Linked DNA regions of Homo sapiens. The protein of the gene in region 1 interacts with the protein of each later gene in a biochemical or structural test. Each region holds a gene or a part of one and is shown on either strand. Other genes may lie near its edges. The genes, in order: SERPING1 and F2.

Region 1 (11,216 bases):
CCACAAAAATGATTTTTTAATGACATAGATTGAACTAAAACATGCACTGTGTTCAATAGCAGAAAAAAAAAATCAAGATCCTGGAAATAAACAGAAATAGGTGGAATACGTCTTCAGAGCAAACTATATAACTGTATTAGTCTGTTTTCACACTGCTATAAAGAACTGCTCAAGACTGGGTAATTTCGAAAGGAAAGAGGTTTAGTTGACTCACAGTTGTGCATGGCTGGGGAGGCCTCAGGAGACTTACAATCATGGCAGAAGGTGAAGGGGAAGCAAGAAACCCTCTTCACAAGGTGGCAGGAAGAAGTGCTGAGCAAAGAGGGAAGAGCCCCTTATAAAACCATCAGATCTCGTGAGAACTCACTCACTATCAAGAGAACAGCATGTGGGAAACTGCCCCCATGATTCAATTGCTTCCACTTGGTCTCTCCTTTGACACATGGGGTTTATGAGGATTACAATTCAAGATGAGATTTGGGTGGGGACACAAAGCCTAAACATATCAACAAGTATATTGAGAAACAGGCCAGGCGTGGTGGCTCCCACCTGTAATCCCAGCAGAGAAACATTAAGGAAGAGCCAAATAGTTGGAAAGCTATAACATGTTCATGGATTAGAAGACTTACTGTTATAAAGATGTCAATTCACTCCCAAAATGATCTATAGATGTAAGGTAATACCAGTCAAAATCCCAACATATTTTTCCCTTTTATTTTGTGGAGCCTGGTAAGCTGATTCTAAGTATATATGGAAATTCAGGGATCAAGAATAGCAGAGATCTTCTTGAAGAAGAATAAAATGTGAGGACTTGGTCTACTGAATATCAGAACTTAAACATGGTGCCGTCACAATTTTTTGTTGTTGTTGTTTTTGAGACAGAGTTTTGCTCTTGTTGCCCAGGCTCAACCTCTACCTCCCTGGTTCAAGTAATTCTCCCGCCTCAGCCTCTCAAGTAGCTGGGATTACAGGCATGCACCACCACACCCAGCTAATTTTGTATTTTTAGTAGAGACAGGGTTTCTATCTCTGCTAACACGTGAAACCCCATCTCTACTAAATATACAAAAAAAAAAAAAAATTAGCTGGGCGTGGTGGCAGACACCTGTAGTCCCAGCTACTTGTGAGGCTGAGGCAGGAGAATGGCGTGAACCTGGGAGGCGGAGCTTGCAGTGAGCCGAGATCATGCCACTGCACTCCAGCCTGGGCAACAGAGCAAGACTCTGTCTCCAAAAAAAAGAAAAGAAAAGAAAAGAAAAGTCTGTAACTGGAGAAGTGACCATGGGGCTTCATGTTCAAGTTGGGCAGAACAAGGAGGGTGGCTCCCTGTTTCTCAACAGGCATTGAGGAACGCAAGGTGAATTTTGGCTTTTCTGGAAGTGGAGCAGGCATTTTTACCCTCAGGAGAGGTGCATGGAAGCAGAAACAGCAGGTCAAAGCAAGGGGCCACAATCTGAATGGAGCCAAATTCACAGCTGAGTCAACAGTCCAAACCTAGCGCTTCCATCTACAGAGCTGGCAACGGAGAATTGGAAACAAAGGCTAGAAATAGAAAGGTAGCAGAGAAAGCAGGTACGCTGCTGTGCAAGAAGTGGAAAAGATAGTAAGTGAGAGGGAAACTTCTGGAACCGGCATGTAGTTAAGGGGATTGGTTTGGGAATCAATCCAAATGTCTCTCTCAGGGTGAGATCAAAGAAATAGTTTGTAATACATCCATACAATGGAATACCGTGCGGCTGTAAGAAAGAATGAGATAGAGCTGCCTGCAGTGACATGGAACAATGCCCATGCTACTTTATTAAGAAAAGAAATTAGGCCAGGCACAGTGGCTCATGCCTGTAATCCCAGCACTTTTGGAGGCCGAGGCGGGTGGATCACGAGGTCAGGAGATCGAGACCCATCCTGGCTAACACGGTGAAACCCCCTCTCTACTAAAAACACAAAAGAAATTAGCCGGGAGTGGTGGCGGGCGACTGCAGTCCCAGCTACTCGGGAGGCTGAGGCAGGAGAATGGCGTGAACCCTGGAGACAGCGCTTGCAGTGAGCCGAGATAGGGCCACTGCACTCCAGCCTGGGTGACAGAGCAAGACTCCCGTCTCAAAAAAAAGAAAAGAAATTATGGAAGAGTAATAATTATGTGTGTGGGGAGAGATGAAGTAGATATGATTTTATAAATAGGCAAATATAAAAGCATACACTCAGAATTATTAACAGCAGTTTTGTCTGTGGTAACTTTTAATTTTGTAAGTGTCTGAATTGTTAGAAACGTTTTGTTTTGTTTTGTTTTGTTTTGTTAGACAGAGTTTTGCTCTTGTTGCCCAGGCTGGAGTGCAATGGCACGATCTCGGCTCACTGCAAACTCCACCTCCTGGGTTCAAGCGATTCTCCTGCCTCAGCCTCCCGAGTAGTTGGGATTACAGGCATGTGCCACCATGTCCACCTAATTTTTGTATTTTTGGTAGAGACGGGGTTTCACCATGTTGGCCAGGCTGGTCTTGAACTCCTGACCTCAGGTGATCCATCCACTTGGGTCTCCCAAAGTGCTGGGATTACAGGCGTGAGCCACCACGCCCAGCCAGAAAAGTTTTACAAAGCACGTATATGACTTTGTAGCAATAACTTTGAAAGAATCATTTAATTTTTTTTTAGACAGGGTCTTGTTCTGTCGCCCAGGCTGGAGTGCAGTGGTGTGATCACGGCTCACTCCAGCCTCGAACTCCTAGGCTCAAGCAATCCTCCCACCTCAGCCTCTTGAGTAGCTGGGACTGCAGGCATGAGCCACCAAGCCTGGCTAATTTTTTTTATTTTTTGTGGAAACGGGGTTTTACCATGTTGTCCAGGCTGCTCTCAAACTCCTGGGCTCAAACAATCCCCCTGTCTCAGCCTCCCAAAGTGCTGGGATTACAGGCATGAGCCACTGCACCCAGGAAAAGAATAATTTTAAAGATCCTTAGAAAAATGATTGAATGGACCAATTTAGAATATCTATGAGGACTCATCAAATGTTTCTATTCTACTCGAAGAAGCTTTGTATTCCTCGGCCTGCCAGGATCTGCAAATAGGGTGTGAGCCTGAGGTTTGGGGATTTTGTGTCTCAACACTTATTTGGATCTCATCTCTGTCTTCATCTCTGATCCCCATCCACCTCCTCATACCAGTTAAAGACTGAAGGGAAGAGGAAGAGAAGAGGGTCGTTAGTGGAAGGGTACTGTGCATGAGGACTCTCTAGTGAGGTTCCTGGGAAGGTCCAGTCCCTGGAGAGCTGGGCAGGAAACAGCCCATGTGAATGAGTCAGGGCTGGTGAGAAAGGGAATCAGTGAAGAAGGTGGGGATACAGTGGGAGCAGGAACCCCCACAGCTCCCTCACTCATGGCTGCCAAACCTGTGCCCTTCTCCGGAGAGGACTACTGTATTTGTAGGAAATAAGGGACAAAGTTCAGCCTGTGGTCCGTTCTTACTTACAAAGCATCAACAGCCCCACGTAAAGGGTGTGCCACAACATAATTCTCAAAATGGTAGAACTGTCATTCTCACACAAATACACAGTGAGAACCTTCACAAGATAACTGTCAGGATGACAAAGTTGGTTCAAAGAATGATTTGAGAAACTGGTGTGTGTGTGTGTGTGTGTGTGTGTGTGTGTGTGTGTGTGCTGGAATAACACAGCTAAGTTACCTACAAAACTGGCTATTGCCCTGCAGGCCAACAAGACTGAAATAGGAGGTAGGACTCAACTCCCGAGGTGGGGCTCAGATACCAACCAGATTGAGGACTAGCTAAAACAGGGCCAGGGCAGAAGCAGTTTTCCATAAGATTTGCCAGCCAGTCCGCCATGTCAGTTTACCATTGCCATGGAAACACCTGGGAGTCACTGCCTCTTTCCATGGCAATGACCTGATGATCCAAAAGTTCTTTTCCCTTCCCTAGAAATTTCTGCATAAACTGCTTCTTGTTTTGTTTTGTTGTTGTTGTTTTGTTTTGTTTTGTTTTTTGAGACAGAGATTAGCTCTTGTGGCCCAGACTGGAATGCAACGGTGCGATCTCGGCTCACTGCAACCTCCACCTTCCAGGTTCAAGAGATTCTACTGTCTCAGCCTCCCGAATAGCTGGGATTACAGAAGCCTGCCAGCACGCCAGCTAATTTTTTGTATTTTTAGTAGAGAGGGGGCTTCACTGTGTTGGCCAGCCTGGTCTCAAACTCCTGATCTCAGGTGATTCACCCAACTTATCCTCCCAAAGTGCTGGGATTACAGGCAGGAACCACCGCGCCCGGCTTTAAACTGCTTTTTAATCTGCATGTAATGGAAAGTGGGTATAAATATGACTGCAAAACTGCCCTGAGCTACTGCTACTCTCTGCCTACAGAGTACCCCTCCTTTGCAGGAGCAGTCACTGAGCTGTAACACTGCCTCTTCAAAAAAACTGTTTTCTTCTACCTCCGGCTTGCCCTTGAATTCTTTCCTGGGCAAAGCTAAGAACGCTTACCAGCTAAGCCCCACTTTGGGGCTCACCTGCCCTGCATCAAGACCATTACCTTTGGGGTTATCATTATCATCTCATTCACATCTCTACCAGACAAAAACCCTTTGCATCTTATCCATTTTTGACAGGTCAACATCTGACATTACAGACTCTGAGCCCTAATCTAGAAAAATAAGAAAGAGAAAATTCTATTCCTCTAGAATAGCATTTCTCAACCAAGATTCCAAAGAAAGGACTGAGCCCTAATTTGCCCAGCGCATTATTTGTTGATAATCAATCAACTTCTCTCCTCTGAAACTAGAGTGGTGCTAGTTGTGTACTATCTGTGGGAGAGTTGAGAAAATAGTCCCTCCAACCATTTTCTGTGTCCCAAGAACGGAGTGACCCTGATTTCTCAGAATTCTTTTGCCCTGTTTCCAAGTTTTGGATAATTTTTCTTTTTTTCTTTTCTTTTCTTTTTTTTTGAGACAGTCTCACTCTGTTGCCCAGGCTGGAGTGCAGTGGCGCAATCTCGGCCCACTGCAACCTCCACCTCCTGGGTTCAAGCAATCCCCCCACCTCAGCCTCCCAAGTAGCTGGTACTACAGTCGTGCACCAGCATGCCTGGCTAATTTTTGTATTTTTAGTAGAGATGGGGTTTTGCTATGTTGGCCAGGTTGACCTCGAACTCCTGACCTCAAGTGATCTGCCCACCTCAGCCTCCCAAAGTGCTGGATTACAGGCATGAGCCACCATGCCCAGCCGAAAAATTTCTCTTAAGAAGGAAAACTAAAGGTGTTTAGTTTTTCACACTCTATAATGTGAGAGAGTTCAGCTACAGCAACTTGTACCTTCAGTATTAGAGGACTCAACTAGGAAAAAACCTGATAAAAATGCTCTGAGTACAGGAAGAGCTTTAGTGAGAACTTGTACCTCATTCAACATCAGGAAATTCACAGGCGAGAGAAGCCATGTGCACCTACAACATGAGGGAAGAGGGATTCTGTGGGTTCAACTCTCCTCAGTCACCAGAAGGAAAGGTCCTTGTTACAGAGAAATCCTAGACCTGCTCCCAGTGGGAAGAGAACTGAATTCACAACCTTACACTGATTGAATATCTCAACATCCACACTAGGGAGAAATTCCGCAAACATCCTGATTAAGTCAGTTTCAGCTCCAGCTTCAGCAGGCAGGGGAGACTTCACAAAGCAGACATCATTTAAATGTGCAGAGTGCAGGAATGGCTTTGGCCAGAGAGCTATTATAGATGGCTGAAGGAGGTAGACCCACAAGCTGGGAAAACCTCTCCACTGGGGCTTTTTCACCCTGGAACTTTGGCCCACAAAGCATCGTACTCTTGCAGCTGTACCCAGAATATTCCCTTTGCTGTCTGCTTCAGGTTAGCCCCTGGTGTGTGTCAATAATTTGTAAGGGTTAATAAAGAACTGTTGGGTCAAACAGACCTGGTCCACATCCTGGCTCTGTCACTTACTGGCTTTGTGATATTAGGTAGATCAATTAATTTCTCTGAGCCTCATTTTAACTTGTTTAAGATGGGATTAATATAGCACCTACTTCATAGGTGATGAGAATTAGTGAGAGGATGAATGTAAATGCATGGTGAGCACTCAGTGAATTAGGTTGCTTTCCACCACCTTCTTTTCCTTTGGCTGACCCATTTCCCAGAATCCACAAGCTCATAGTCCCTTTGAGCCCACCAGCTTGAGCACTGGGGATGGAGAAACGTTGTTTTGTGTGCAGCTGTTCAAACGATGGCTCTGATGTTATATAACTTTCCCATGGTTTAGGAGGTTCCCAAGTGGCTTCAGAGAATAAAGCACAAAGCTGGGGAAGACTCTTTCTGGGTCTTGTCCAAGGACCCCCGAGGAGACACACAAATATTCTCCTGTTTCTGTCCTTGGTCAGTCCCTTAGAGTAGCAGTTCTGGTGCTAGCAGCAAACTTTCCTGAATGCTCCAAACACAGCCAGAGGATAGGCCTGCAGTGAGATGACGATAGAACATGATAGCTATATTAGGTCATCAGAGACAACCTGTTTGTTTTGCAGATGAGGCAGAGTTATCAGATTTAGCAAAAATACAAAATGCCAATTATATTTGAATTTCAGATACACAACAATGACAACAAAATTTATTTTACCATAAGTATATTCCAATGTAAGCATTTTTACCATAAGTATATCCCAATGTAAGTTTTTTTTTTTTTTTTTAGAGACAGCAAGTGTCTTACTCTGTTGCCCAGGCTGGAGTGCAGTGGCATGATCAATGCTAACTGCAGCCTTGAACTCCTGGGCTCAAGGGATCCTCCTGCCTCAGTCTCCTAAAAGGCTGGGATTACAGGTATGAACCCCCAGGCCTGCCTACTTCGTGTGTTTTATCTGGCAATGCTGAGAGGACAGCTAGATGTCGAGGACAGCCAGATTTCGAGGACAGCCAGACGTCAAGGGGGAAAGCAACTTGCTGGCTCACACAGCCAGCCAGGTCTATTGTGGAGCCCTAGTCGCAAACACATACACCCCAGCTTTCAAGTTTTTAAATATTTATTTAGTTAGTTATTTGTTTTTTGAGACAGTCTTGCTCTGTCACCCAGGCTGGAGTGCAGTGGTGCAATTTCAGCTCACTGCAACCTCTGCCTCCCAGATTCAAGTGATTGTGCCTCAGCCTCCCTAGTAGCTGGGACTACATGTGCGCGCCTGCACTGCCCAGCTAATTTTTGTACTTTTAGCGGAAACGGGGTTTCCCCATATTGGCCAGAGTGGTCTCAAACTCCTGACCTCAAGTGATCCACCCACCTCGGCCTCCCAAAGTGCTGGGATTACAGGCGTGAGCCACCGTGCCCGGCTAGCTTTTTTTTTTTTTTTTTTTTTAATTAGGTTGAATGCTTGTTGAGCTGGGTGCCTCACATCCGTTGTCTGTTATACAAAGAACTACTGATTATGGGTCTCTACGAGCAAAAATGGCAGAACACCTACAGGGCACAGGGGAGATGGGAGCAGGGATTAGGCTTCAGAATACTTCTCCAAATGAGGGTGATCAGGGCCCGACATTTCACTGCTCTAAGGCTCAGTATCTTAACTATCAAATGGGTACAATGGGGCACAAAGGGTTACTTTGAGGAATAACGGAGGTGAGCAATTTCCAAAAAGTTCATTCCTTTAAAAACTGCGGAGCACATTTTGTGTACATGCTGTTTTTATTGTTACTCATGAAGACGCGGGGGAAGCTTTGGTTGTGTAAAGCTGAGAACTGCACCCAAGCTTCCCCGTTCACCCCACCTACCAGGGGATTTGGGCTAAATTCCTGGCCTGGCCCACAAAGAAGACCAAGCGGTCAGTCCCATTCCGTCCCATCCTGATTTACAGGAACTCACACCAGCGATCAATCTTCCTTAATTTGTAACTGGGCAGTGTCCCGGGCCAGCCAATAGCTAAGACTGCCCCCCCCGCACCCCACCCTCCCTGACCCTGGGGGACTCTCTACTCAGTCTGCACTGGAGCTGCCTGGTGACCAGAAGTTTGGAGTAGGTTTGGTGCTGGGCAGGGGTGGGGAGTAGGGTGGAAAGCATGGAGTGAAGAGGTCTAGGGAGGGGGTCTCCTCACCCCCGCCTTCCTGCCCGCCTTGATCTCGGGGGTCTCTATAGGCTTGCTTCCACCTGGGACTTCTGCCTCCTCCTACCCCAGCCCCTCCCGCCTCAGGCCTGTTGTGCTCAGCCCCCCAGGACCTCCCCTCCCCCACGCCTCTGGCCTCATTGTTTGGTTAAAGCAGGACCCCCTCCCCCTCCCACCACCTCCCCTCCGACTGAACAGATGGACAGAGACCCGGGCCCACGGGGAGAGGAAGGGCCAGCCGGTGCCGGGAAAGGGAAGCGGTTTGGGGAAAACAAAACAGAGGGAGGAGCCAGGGAGAAGGTGGCCCCAGGAGGGAGGAGGAGGGAATTCGCTAAGAGGGACTGGGGCCTGAGACGGAATGGGGGCGGGCCCCGGGCGGGGTGGGGGCCCCTGGGCTCCCAGGGTGGGAGCTGGCTCCGAGGCTGGCTGGCTCCGCAGGTCCGCTGACGTCGCCGCCCAGATGGCCTCCAGGCTGACCCTGCTGACCCTCCTGCTGCTGCTGCTGGCTGGGGTATGTGGTCCCTTGTGGGATGGGGGACGGGGGTGGAGACGGGAGGCGGGATGGTGCGGGGTGCGGGCGGTGGCTGAGGATTAACCCTTCAGGCTCCGGGGAATGAGGAGAGCTCCTCTTGGGATCATTGAGTGTGATCCTTGCACACGCACTCGTAGATGGTGGAAAGAGCTCAGGACTCAGACAGATGCAAGTTCTAATCTTGGCGGGCCATGTAGGAGCTGCGCAGCGTGGTCCTGAGGACGTCACTTTTCTCAGCCTACTCCTCCTGATTTATAAAATGTTGAATAAACAGATCCCACCCTGTCCACCAAGCAGGCTTGGCAGGAGGATCACATAGGGCAAGGAGATGGGAAGCATTTTGTGATATCAAAGCAAGAGTTTGTTGTAGAAAAGAGCTGTGGGGAGGAGAGGTTTGGCTGCTGTGACACAGACGGTGGTCCCAGGCTAGGGCCTGTGAAGACAGGGAAGAATGGTAGCAAACATACGTGGGTCTGGGTGGGGGTCAATAGCAGTGAGAGGTCCCAGTGGTCTGGGAGGTCATGGACTAGAAATAAGGCTAAGAAGTGCAGGATCCCAGGAGAAAGGTAGGTAGGGGTGTGTGTATGTGCGTGTGTGTGTGTGTGCACGCGCAAGTTGGTATCACATACTCAGCAGATGATGTAGTTATGAGCAGGGAGTTTGGAATCAGAGACCTTGTTTTGACCCCTAGCTGTTTCTCCCATTTCTGTGAGACCCTGGACTAGTTAATATGTGTCGGTATGAGTTTCTCTACCTGTGAAATGGAGCTAATGCGTGGTTTCTCAGTGGAGGATCTGTTGACATTGGGGCTGGATAATTCATTGCTGAGGGGCTACCCTGCGCATTTTAGGATGTTTTGCAGTATATCTCTAGCCTCTACGCACTAGATTCCGGTAGCATCTTCCCTGCTGTCTCCCTGTGACAACCAAAAATGTCTCTGGACATTGCCAAATATCCCCTGGGAGTCAAAATTGTTTCAGAGCCGCTGGCCTATACTACTTCTCTCTCCCTCCCTTCCTGCCTCCCTTCTTTCCTCCTTCCCTTTCTTCGTTCCCTTCCTAATGTGTACTGTTTTTCCACACCCACTAATGGGTTGCAACCCACAGTTTAAAAATTTACTGTTCTAAATCAAGGAGCACAAGTTCAAATGTCTGTACTAGCCAAGCAAGTGAGTCAAACAGGTAGATATTTACAGGAAATTGCAAGAACATAGATAAATGACAACACTCAGCTTCACTGTTTGGAAAACAACTTCCTACAGGGCAGTAATTGGTCAGAGATTACAGAGTCCCTGACTATCCCTCATCTTCTGCAGAGCACATTCCTGTGCACCCCCACCCTCACCCTGTATTGCCCCTTCTCTGAGGAATTAGTGGTGGTGGTTCTAAGACAGATTGCTCATCTGCCGCACTGTCAGAAATTACTCTCTTGTACAGGACATTTTCCACATCCACACCTTCTCTTCCTGCTTTGAGTATTTTAGAGGACTGTGCCTCGTAGTAAGAAAAAAATGAAACTCAGTTTCTTGAACCACAGGATAGAGCCTCCTCAAATCCAAATGCTACCAGCTCCAGCTCCCAGGATCCAGAGAGTTTGCAAGACAGAGGCGAAGGGAAGGTCGCAACAACAGTTATCTCCAAGATGCTATTCGTTGAACCCATCCTGGAGGTTTCCAGCTTGCCGACAACCAACTCAACAACCAATTCAGCCACCAAAATAACAGCTAATACCACTGATGAACCCACCACACAACCCACCACAGAGCCCACCACCCAACCCACCATCCAACCCACCCAACCAACTACCCAGCTCCCAACAGATTCTCCTACCCAGCCCACTACTGGGTCCTTCTGCCCAGGACCTGTTACTCTCTGCTCTGACTTGGAGAGTCATTCAACAGAGGCCGTGTTGGGGGATGCTTTGGTAGATTTCTCCCTGAAGCTCTACCACGCCTTCTCAGCAATGAAGAAGGTGGAGACCAACATGGCCTTTTCCCCATTCAGCATCGCCAGCCTCCTTACCCAGGTCCTGCTCGGTAAGACCCTGCTTGAATTCTCTCCAGGTCATTTGTTGGACACTCCCATAAGAGTCACCAATCCAGACACTTACAAAGCCATGCCTCTGGGAAGAAGCTGTAAAAATGGGCTATTATATATTGGGGGTGGGGTAGAGGGATGTATCTTTTCATTCTTGAACATTCCATCATTTCACAGTGATGTAATAGGCACGATTGCTTGTAAAACTCTGTGACTATACAAGAACATATAAAATAAGGTCGCAGCCACTAACCATGTTTCATGGCAAGGAGAGGTGATAAGAAAGATGAAATTAGGCGCAGTGGCTCACGCCTGTAATCCCAGCACTTTGGGAGGCCAAGGCGGGTGGATCACCTGAGGTCAGGAGTTCAAGACCAGCCTGGCCAACATGGTGAAACCCTGTCTCTACTAAAAATACAAAAATTATCAGGGAGTGGTGGTGCATGCCTGTAATCCCAGCTACTTGGGCAGCTGAGGCAGGAGAATCGCTTGAACCCAGGAGGTGGAGGTTGCAGTGAGCCGAGACCGCACCATTGCACTACAGTCTGGGTGACAGAGCG
Region 2 (10,176 bases), about 11 Mb from region 1:
AAGTTCTTTTCAGTACTGGCGTTTTATTTTTTATTTATATTTATTTATTTACTGACGGAGTTCCACTCTTGTCTCCCAGGCTGGAGTGTAGTTGTGCGATCTTGGCTCACTGCAACCCCACCTCCTGGGTTCAAGCGACTCTCCTGCCTCAGTCTCCTGAGTAGCTGGGATTACAGGCTAATTTTTGTATTTTTAGTAGAGACTGGTGGGTTTCACCGTGTCGGCCAGGTTGGTCTCGAACCCCTGACCTCAAGTGATTCACCCGCCTCGGCCTCCCAAAGTGCCGAGACCACAGGCGTGAACGTCTGTGCCCAGCCAGCTCTGGCGTTTTAGATTCTGGTCTCTAAGAAATGGCGTTGGGGCCAGGCGGCTCCTGTGGGGGTTGGCTCTCACTAGGCCCTTCTTCCTTCCCCAAAGCTTGCTCCAGGCTGGATACAAGGGGCGGGTGACAGGCTGGGGCAACCTGAAGGAGACGTGGACAGCCAACGTTGGTAAGGGGCAGCCCAGTGTCCTGCAGGTGGTGAACCTGCCCATTGTGGAGCGGCCGGTCTGCAAGGACTCCACCCGGATCCGCATCACTGACAACATGTTCTGTGCTGGCAAGTCTGTGCAGGGCGGGCTGAGGGAACAGTGGGGCCCAAGCTGGGAGAACTGAGTTGTGCCTGGGTTCAAGCCATGTGACTTTGAGCAAGTTGCCTAACCTCTTGGTGGCTCAGTTTCTTCCTCTGTAAAATGGAGGTAAAAGTCTCTATCCCATAAGGTTATGGGAGGGTTAAATGAAGTAGTATATATTAATGTACTTGGCATAGTATCAGTCACCAGTGAGCTCAGATAGCAGCAAGAGGCTGCGGGTAGGGAAATGCCATTCATTCAGTCACTCAGCAAATATTTATTGAGCGCCTATCACGTTCCAGGCAGCGTTCTAGGGTATACAGCAGGGACCCAGACGGACAATGTCTGTGCCCTCAGAGAGCTTCCTTCCTAGGAGGGCACATCCATAAACAGATCTAAAACAGCAATCCCTGACCAGTGCTGTGAAGAAAAATGAAGCACAGGGAGAGAGAACGGCTGATGAAGTGGGCTTCTAAATAGGGTGGCCAGACAAGGTGGGCAGATCACTTGAGGTCAGGAGTTCAAGACCAGCCTGGCCAACATGGTGAAACCCCGTCTCTACTAAAAATACAAAAATTAGCTGGTCATGGTGACGCATGCCTGTAGTCGCAGCTACTCAGGAGGCTGAGGCAGGAGAATTGCTTGAGCCAGGGAGGCGGAGGTTGCAGTGAGCTGAGATCGGGCATCATTGCACTCCAGCTGGGCAACACAGCAAGACTCCATTGATCGATCGATCAATCAATCAATCAGGTGGCCAGAGAAGGTTGGAGAAGGCCTCCCTGAGAAGGTGATGTCTGGGCAGGGACTGGAAGAGGGGAAGGAAGGAGTGAGCAGGCATATCTAGGGGAGGAGCACCGCAGGCTGGGGGCATGGCAGGCACTAAGGCCCTGAGGTGGGAGCACTCTTGGCTTGTCTGGGGAGCAGTAGGGAGGCCTGGGGGGCTGAGGAGGGGCAGCAGTGGGTGAGGGGAGAGAGGGGGGCAGGCAGAGGACAGCCACTTCCTTTAGGGCCTGGAAGGACTTTATTGAGTGAGATGGGAAGTTATTGAGGGGCTTGAGGCAGGTTAAGAAATGATGTGACTGACTTTAAAAGTAAAAAATAAAAAAATTTAGTGTAATTTCAGACTCACAGAAAAGTTGTAAAAATAATACAAAGATTTCCTGTATACTGTCATCCAGATTGTCCTCCATTCTGTGGATGTGTGGGAATTTTTATATATATATATGCATAGTTTGAGAGCAAATCATGAATATGGTTTCTTTTTACCCATAAATACTTGAGTATTTCCAAAAAAAAAAAAAATACCCAAGGATGTTCTCTTATGCAACCACAATACAAATATTAAAACCCGGAAATTTTTTTTTGACATAGCTTCGCTGTCACCCAGGCTTGAGTGCAGTGGCACAATCTCGGCTCACTGCAACCTCCTGCTCCCAGGTTCAAGTGATTCTCCTGCCTCAGCCTCCTGAGTAGCTGGAATCACAGGCATGTACTACCATGCCTAGCTAATTTTTGTATTTGTAGTAGAGACAGGGTTTCACCATGTTGGCCAGGCTGGTCTTGAACTCCTGACCTCAGGTGATCCACCTGCCTCGGCCTCCCAAAGTGCTGGGATTACAGGCGTGAACCACTGTACTCGGCCAAAACCAGGAAATTTTTTTTTTTTTTTGAGATGGAATCTTGCTCTGTTGCCCAGGCTAGAGTGCAGTGGCATGGTCTCGGCTTACTTGGAATTACAGGTGCCTGCCACCACGCCCGGCTAACTTTTTGTATTTTTAGTATTTTTAGTAGTGATGGGGTTTCACCATGTTGGCCAGGCTGGTCTTGAACTCCTGACCTCGGGTAATCCACCCACCTCGGCTTCCCAAAGTGCTGGGATTACAGGCGTGAGCCACAGCACCTGGCCCAAAACCAGGAAATTAATGATGATACAATATTATTGTCTAATCTATAGACCTTATTCAAATTTTTGTTAGTCTTGCTAATGTCTTTTATAGGGAAAAAAAAAAAAAAAAGCGTGTTTCTCACCCAGGATTCAATGAAGGATCTTTCTTTGTCTTCTATGACCTTGACATGTCTGATGAGTGCAGTCTGGTTATTTTGTACACTGGCCCTGAATCCGGGTTTGTCTAAGGTTTCCTCACGGTCAGGTTCGGGCTCAGTGGTGCCATGTCCTTCTTGGTGCATCCTGTTAACTGGCACATGAGAACAATTTGTCTCATATGTGGTGAGTCTAACTCTGACCTCTTGAGGAAGGCAATGTCTGCCAAGTTTCTTGCTGTAACTTCTGTTTTTCCCTTTGTAATTAATAAGAATCTGGTAAAGAGACACTTTGATGTTTTTTTTTTTTTTTTTTTTTTGTGATGGAGTCTCCCTCTATCACCCGGGCTGGAGTGTGTGGTGCGATCTCGGCTCACTGCAACCTCCATCCCCCAGGTTCAAGTGATTCTCCTGCCTCAGCCTCCCAAGTAGCAGGGATTACAGGCATGTGCCACCACACCCAGCTAATTTTTGTATTTTTAGTAGAGATGGGGTTTCACCATGTTGGCCAGGATGGTCTCGAACTCCTGACCTTGTGATCCGTCTGCCTCAGCCTCCCAAAGTGCTGGGATTACAGGTGTGAGCCAATACGCCTGGCCTACTTTGATATTTTGTATTCTGTTTGCATCAAAACCTTCTCCCAACTAGGGTGACTACCAAATGGCACTTATCTAATTCTGTCATTCCTTCTACATTTGTTAGTTACTTTATTGCTTTCCTTCCTTTCATTCTATCAGTGTGGACTTAAGGATCCTTACTTTATTCTAAGGGTTCACCTTTTTTTTTCTTTTTTTTTGAGATGGAGTTTCGCCCATGTTGCCCAGGCTGGATGGAGTGCAATGGCGTGATCTCGGCTCACTGCAACGTCCTCCTCCCAGGTTCAAGCAATTCTCCTGCCTCAGCCTCCTGAGTAGCTGGGATTACAGGCATGTGCCACCACGCCTGGCTAATTTTTTGTATTTTTAGTAGAGACAGGGTTTCACCATGTTGGCCAGGCTGGTCTCGAACTCCTGACCTCAGGTGATCCGCCCGCCTCAGCCTTCCAAGGTTCTGGGATTATAGGCGTGAGCTCTACCGTGCCAGGCCATACTTTGTTACTACTGTTATTTTTTCTGATGCTCAGATGATCCCAAGTTTGGCCTGTGGAAGTCCCTTCAAGCTGGCTTCTGTGACTTGGGGAGATGTTCTGTCATTCTTTGAGTACTTTCTTTCTTTCTGGCACAGCAAAATGATTCAGGTTAATCCTACTTTCCTTACTGTAGTGTTGGAACCAGCCATTTCTCCAGGGAACCCTTGTAGTCAAGAGTGGAATTTAGAACTGAGATCTGGGTGCTGGCGTGTGCACATTGCTAGTGGGATGTCATTACTTCTAGGCTCTCTTAGTGGACAGAACCAGAAAAAAATTATATGATGCATATACCAATATCTCTATCATCTATATAAAAAACCATGAGTTCCTACTGAAACCTCCAATTCCATTCTAACACCACAGGATTAATTTTAGCTTTTCCTTTTCCATATTTGTAACTCTCTCTGTTGACAGTGAGAAACCTGACCCTCATTATCTGTAATGCATTTGCCTATTTGAACAATACTAGAATATAGTTTCAAAATCCTCCATCCATAACACTATTAAAACCAATCCTATGGCTGGGCTCAGCCCACTGCAACCTCTGCCTCCTGGACTCAAGCCAGCCTCCCACTTTAGCCTCCCGAGTAGCCAGGGCTACAGGCACACACCACCATGCCCAGCTAATTTTTGTATTTTTTGTAGAGACTGGGTCTCACTGTGTTGCCCAGACAGGTCTTGAACTCTGAGCTCAAGTGATCCATCCAACTCAGCCTCCCAAAGTGCTAGGATTACAGGTGTGAGCCACCATGCCTGGCCTCTCCTAGTAAATTTTTAGAAGTGGTGTTGTTAGGTCAAAAGGCAAACATGTATGTCATTTTTTAGAGATTTTTAAATTTCTTTCCATAAGGGTTGTACCAGTTTGCATTTCCATCACAGTGTATGAGAATGCCTGTTTCCCCACAACCTTGCCAAAAGAATGTCACAGTTTTAAATTTTTACCAATCTGAGAGGTGAGAAATAGTATCTTGAAATTGTTTTAACGGACATCTTTCAAATTGAAAATGAGGTTGAACATCGTATCATATGATTAAGGACCTTTTTTTTTTTTTTTTTTTTTTTTGAGATGGAGTCTCCCTCTGTCACCTAGGCTGGAGTGCAATGGCACGATTTTGGCTCACTGCAACTTCCGCCTTCTGGGTTCAAGCGATTCTCCTGCTTCAGCCTCCCAAGCAGCTGGGACTCCAGGCGCGAGTCACCATGCCCGCTAATTTTTGTATTTTTAGTAGAGACAGGGTTTTACCAGATTGGCCAGGCTGGTCTCGAACTCCTTACCTTGTGATCCTCCCGCCTCGGCCTCCCAAAGTGCTGAGATTACAGGCATGAGCCACCACGCCTGGCCTAAGGACCATTTTTATATAATTTTTTTTTTGAGACAGAGTCTTGCTTTGTCACCCAGGCTGGAGTGCAATGGTGCAATCTTGGCTCACTGCAGCCTCCACTTCCCTGGTTCAAGTGATTCTCCTGCCTCAGCCTCCCGAGTAGCTGGTTCCACAGGTGCGTGCCTGGCTAGTATTTGTATTATATAATTTTTTTGTGAATTGTCTCTTCATGGTTTTTTGCCCATTTTTTGGTCCCTTTCTTATCAATTTTTGTGAGTTCTTCGTATTTATATTAGGCCTTTATTTGTGATATACATTGCAAATGTTTTCTCCTAGTTTGTCAGTTTTTTTAACCTCATGTATAATTTTTCTGGCCATGCAGTTTAAAAAATTACTAGGTAGTCAAATTTATCAATCATTTATTTTATTAAATCTGGATTTTGAATCAGAGATAAACTTTTCCTGGCCAGGTGTGGTGTCTTACACCTGTAATCCCAGCACTCTGAGAGGCTGAGGTGGGGGATCACCTGAGGTCAGAAGTTCAAGACCAGCCTGGCCAACATGGTGAAACCCTGTCTCTACTAAAAATACAAAAATTAGCTGGGCGTGGTGGCTGATGCCTGTAGTCCCAGCTACTCAGGAGACTGAGGCTGGAGAATTGCTTGAACCTGGGAGGCGGAGGTTGCAGTGAGCAGAGATCGTGCCGCTGCACTCCAGCCTGGGTGACAGAGCAAGACTCTGTCTCAAAAACAAAACGACAAAAAACAACAACAGAAAAGCCTTTCCTGATAGCTAGGTCATTGAGGAATTCACTCATGTTTTCTTCTAGTACCTGATTTCATTTTTCTGCACTTAGATTCCTGACTCATATGGAGTTTATTTTTGTATCTGATGTGAGGCATAGATCTAATTTATTATTTTCCAAATGGCTAACTAGCTGTCTCTAAACCCTTTATTAAAAATTATTGGCCAAGTGCGGTAGCTCACACCTGTAATCCCAGCAGTTTGGAAGGCTGAGGCAGGATTGCTTGAGGCCAGGAATTCAAAACCAGCCCAGACAACATAGCAAGACCCTGTCTCTACAAGAAAATATTGGTCAGGTGTGGTGGCTCACGCCTATAATCCCAGCACTTTGGGAGGCTGAGGCAGGTGGATCATGAGGTCAGGAGATAGAGACCATCCTGGCCAACATGGTGAAACCCTCGTCTCTACTAAAATACAAAAAATTAGCTGGGTGTGGTGGCGCATGCCTGTAGTACCAGCTACTCAGGAGGCTGAGGCAGGGGAATCATTTGAACCCAGGAGGTGGAGGTTGCAGTGAGCTGAGATCACGCCATTGAACTCCAGCCTGGCGACAGAGCAAGACTCCATCTCAAAAAAAAAAGGAAAAAGAAAATATTTTAAAAATTAGCTGGGCATGGTGGCATGTGCCTTGTAGTCTCAGCTACTTGAGAGGCTGAGTTAGGAGGATTGCTTGAGCCTAGGAGTTCAATACTGCAGTGAGCTATGACCGCACCATTGCACTCCAGCCTGGGCAACAGAGTGAGACCCTGTTTCTATTAAAAAAAAAAAATCGGCTGGGCGCGGTGGCTCACGCCTGTAATCCTAGCACTTTGGGAGGCCGAGGCGAGCGGATCACCTGAGGTCAGGAGTTCAAGACCAGCCTGACCAACATGGAAAAACCCTGTCTCTGCTAAAAATACAAAATTAGCCAGACATGGAGGCACATGTCTGTAATCCCAGCTACTCGGGAGGCTGAGGCAGGAGAATCGCTTGAACCTGGGAGACGGAGGTTGCAGTGAGCTGAGATCCCTCCATTGCACTCCAGCCTGGGCAACAAGAGTAAAAACTCCGTTTCGCCAGGTGCGGTGGCTCACACCTGTAATCCCAGCACTTTGGGAGGCCGAGGTGGGTGGATCACAAGGTCAGGAGTTTGAGACAAGCCTGGCCGACATGGTGAAACCCCATCTCTACTAAAATACAAAAAATTAGCCTGGCATGGTGGTGTGCGCCTGTAATCCCAGCTACTTGGGAGGCTGAGGCAGGGGAATCACTTGAACCTGGGAGGAGGAGGTTGCAGTGAGCCGAGATGGTGCCACTGCACTCCAGCCTGGCAACAGAGCGAGACTCTATCTCAAAATCAATCAATCAATCAATCAATCTTTGAACTAGTGATTTGAGATTTCACCTTTATCACATTCTAGATTGTATCTTATTTTCATTTATTTATTTGAAATATAGACAAGTCTCCCTGTGCTGCCCAGGCTGATTTCAAACTCCTGGCTGGGCTCGAGCAAGTCTCCCGCCTTGGCCTCCCAAACTGCTGGGATTACAGACGTGAGCCACCATACCTGACCTAGGTTTTATTTTTTAGTTTTATTTTTTCCTGCATCCAGCTAATTTGATTTGATTTGTAGAGACGGGGTCTTGCTATGTTACCTAGGCTGGTCTCGAACTCCTGGGCTCAAGTGATCCTCCTGCCTTGGCCTCCCAAAGTGTTGGGATTACCAGCATGAGCCACGGTGCCCAGCCCCACGTTCTAGATTTCTATGGATAGAGTATGCTTAAGGATGAGTATGTTTCTGGATGTTCGACTCGGCTTTCCTGGTCTGTTGTCTGTCTGTGTACAGCGTCACATTGTTTTAATGATAGAGGCTTTAGCGTACATAGCTGGGAAGGCTAATGTTCTCTTTTAGTTTTTCTTTCCAGTGGTTTCCTGGCAATTCTTGCATGTTTGTTTTTCCATATGAACTTTAGTGTCAACATGCCTAGGTCTATAAAAAAGCTTGGTGGTAATTTTATTGGGATTATGACACTTCAACAAATTAACTGGGAGAATGGACATATTTTTGATGTTGAGTCATTTTATCCAAGGATAAGAAACGTTTTCCTATTTGCTCAAGTCTATTATTGTATCTTTCTTGACTGCTGCAATGTATTCTCTTATAATTTTTTCTATTGGTATCTTATTTTATGTATTTGTAATATCTTATTTTTCTTGAGTAAATTAGTTAATGGCTTGCCGGTTTTCTCAAAACAAATATCTAGGGATTTGATTTATGAAATTATTAGGCCTATTATTTTTCTTTTTTTTGAGATGGAGTCTCACTCTGTCGCCCAGGCTGGAGTGCAGTGGCGTGATCTCAGCTCACTGCAACCTCCACCTCCTGGGTTCAAGTGATTCTCCTGCCTCAGCCTCCCCAGTAGCTGGGGTTACAGGTGCACGCCACCATGCCCGGCTAATTTTTTTATATTTTTAGTAGAGACGGGGTTTCACCATGTTAGCCAGGCTGGTCTCGAACTCCTGACCTCATGATCCGACTGCCTCAGCCTCCCAAAGTGCTGGGATTACAGGTGTGAGCCACCGTGCCTGGCCTTTTTTTTTTTTTTTTTGAGACAGAGTCTTGCTCTGTCACCCAGGCTGGAGTGCAGTGGTGCGATCTCGGCTCACTGAAAGCTCCACCTCCCGGGTTCACGCCATCCTCCTGCCTCAGCCTCCCGAGTAGCTGGGACTACAGGTGTACACTGCCACGCCCAGCTAATTTTTTGTATTTAGTAGAGACAGGGTTTCACCGCGTTCGCCAGGATGGTCTCGATCTCCTGACCTTGTGATCCGCCTGCCTCAGCCTCCCAAAGTGCTGGTATTACGGGCGTGAGCCACTGCGCCCGGCCAGGCCTATTATTTTTCTATTGTGGTTCATTAATTTCTGCTTTTTTCTCTTAAAAAGTTTGCTTACGTTTTTGTCTGGTTTACTTTGCTGTTCTCTTGCTAGCTTTTTTTTTTTTCAGATAGGGTCTTGCTCTGTTGCCCAGGCTGGAGTGCAGTGGCACAGTCATAGCTCACTGCAGCCTTGAACTCCTGGGCTCAAGCAATCCTCTTCTTGCTTCAGCCTCCCACGTAGCTAGGATCAGAGGTACATGCCACCATGTCCGGCTAATTTTTTTTTTTCGAGACAGAGTCTTGTTCTGTCGCTCAGGCGGTAGTGCAGTGGTGCAATCCCGGCTCACTGCAACCTCCACCTCCACCTCCCAGGTTCAAGCAATTCTACCTCAGTCTCCTGAGTAGCTGGGATTATAGGCGCACACCAACATGTCTGGCTAATTTTTGTATTTTTAGTAGAGACAGGGTTTCACCACGTTGGCCAGGCTGGTCTTAAACTCCTGACTTCATGATCCGCCCGCCTTGGCCTCCCAAAGTGCTGAGATTACAGGTGTGAGCCACAGCACCTAGTGAAGGTGTGGTTTTTTTGTGTAGGTTTTACTGTTGTTAGTGTTGTTCTGTATTGTTTGTAGAGGATACGTGGGGAGATTTGGATAAAAGCAACTATCATTATTATCCTCATCAGACTTGTAGGTCTAACTTTTTAATTTTTTAATTTTTAATTTAAATTTTTTTCTTGGTCTTTTATCATTAATTAATTTTTTCGAGACAGGGTCTCACTCTGTTGCCCAGGCTGGAGTGTGGTGACATGATCACGGCTCACTGCAGCCTTAACCTCCCAGGCGCAAGTGATCCTCCTCTCTTAGCCTCCCGAGTAGCTGGGACTCCAGGCATGTGCCACCATGCCCAGCTAATTTTTTGTAGAGAGAGGGTTTTGCCATATTGCCCAGGCTGGTCTTGAACTGCTGAGCTCAAGTGATCCACCCGGCTTGGGCATGAGCCACCTCCCCTGGTCTGGTCCAACTTTTTAAAAGCATTATTCTGCCTGTTGGGTGGAGAATAGACTGTAGGTGGGCAAAGAATGAAGGAAACTAGTGGGTTCAGGAGCTCGAGCTAGAAGTGGTGAGAAGGGTTTGGATTTGGGGTCTATGCTGAAGGTAGAGCCGACAAGATTTGCTAGGATTGGATGGGTAGGGTGAGGAAGTGGGGACAGCAAGAATGACTGGAGGGGTAAGTGGACTCTCACCAGCTGTGTCTCGTGAAGGGGCGTGGCTGGGCTATGAGCTATGCTCCTGAGCACAGACGGCTGTTCTCTTTCAAGGTTACAAGCCTGATGAAGGGAAACGAGGGGATGCCTGTGAAGGTGACAGTGGGGGACCCTTTGTCATGAAGGTAAGCTTCTCTAAAGCCCA

Evidence for each region.
Region 2: the proteins of SERPING1 (region 1) and F2 form a complex in vitro, tested with the Homo sapiens proteins (one study listed by BioGRID).

What each region holds. Positions count from the first base shown.
Region 1 is NC_000011.10:57,589,723-57,600,938, forward strand, and holds the start of SERPING1 (plasma protease C1 inhibitor precursor), read left to right. Parts: upstream 1-7,962; 5' UTR 7,963-8,000; intron 8,001-8,488; exon of another isoform or gene 8,489-8,526; 5' UTR 8,527-8,548; coding exon 8,549-8,599; intron 8,600-10,156; coding exon 10,157-10,655; intron 10,656-11,216. UniProt on the Homo sapiens protein: Serine protease inhibitor, which acrs as a regulator of the classical complement pathway. Forms a proteolytically inactive stoichiometric complex with the C1r or C1s proteases. May also regulate blood coagulation, fibrinolysis and the generation of kinins.
Region 2 is NC_000011.10:46,728,963-46,739,138, forward strand, and holds part of F2 (prothrombin preproprotein), read left to right. Parts: intron 1-417; coding exon 418-599; intron 600-10,085; coding exon 10,086-10,156; intron 10,157-10,176. UniProt on the Homo sapiens protein: Thrombin, which cleaves bonds after Arg and Lys, converts fibrinogen to fibrin and activates factors V, VII, VIII, XIII, and, in complex with thrombomodulin, protein C. Functions in blood homeostasis, inflammation and wound healing.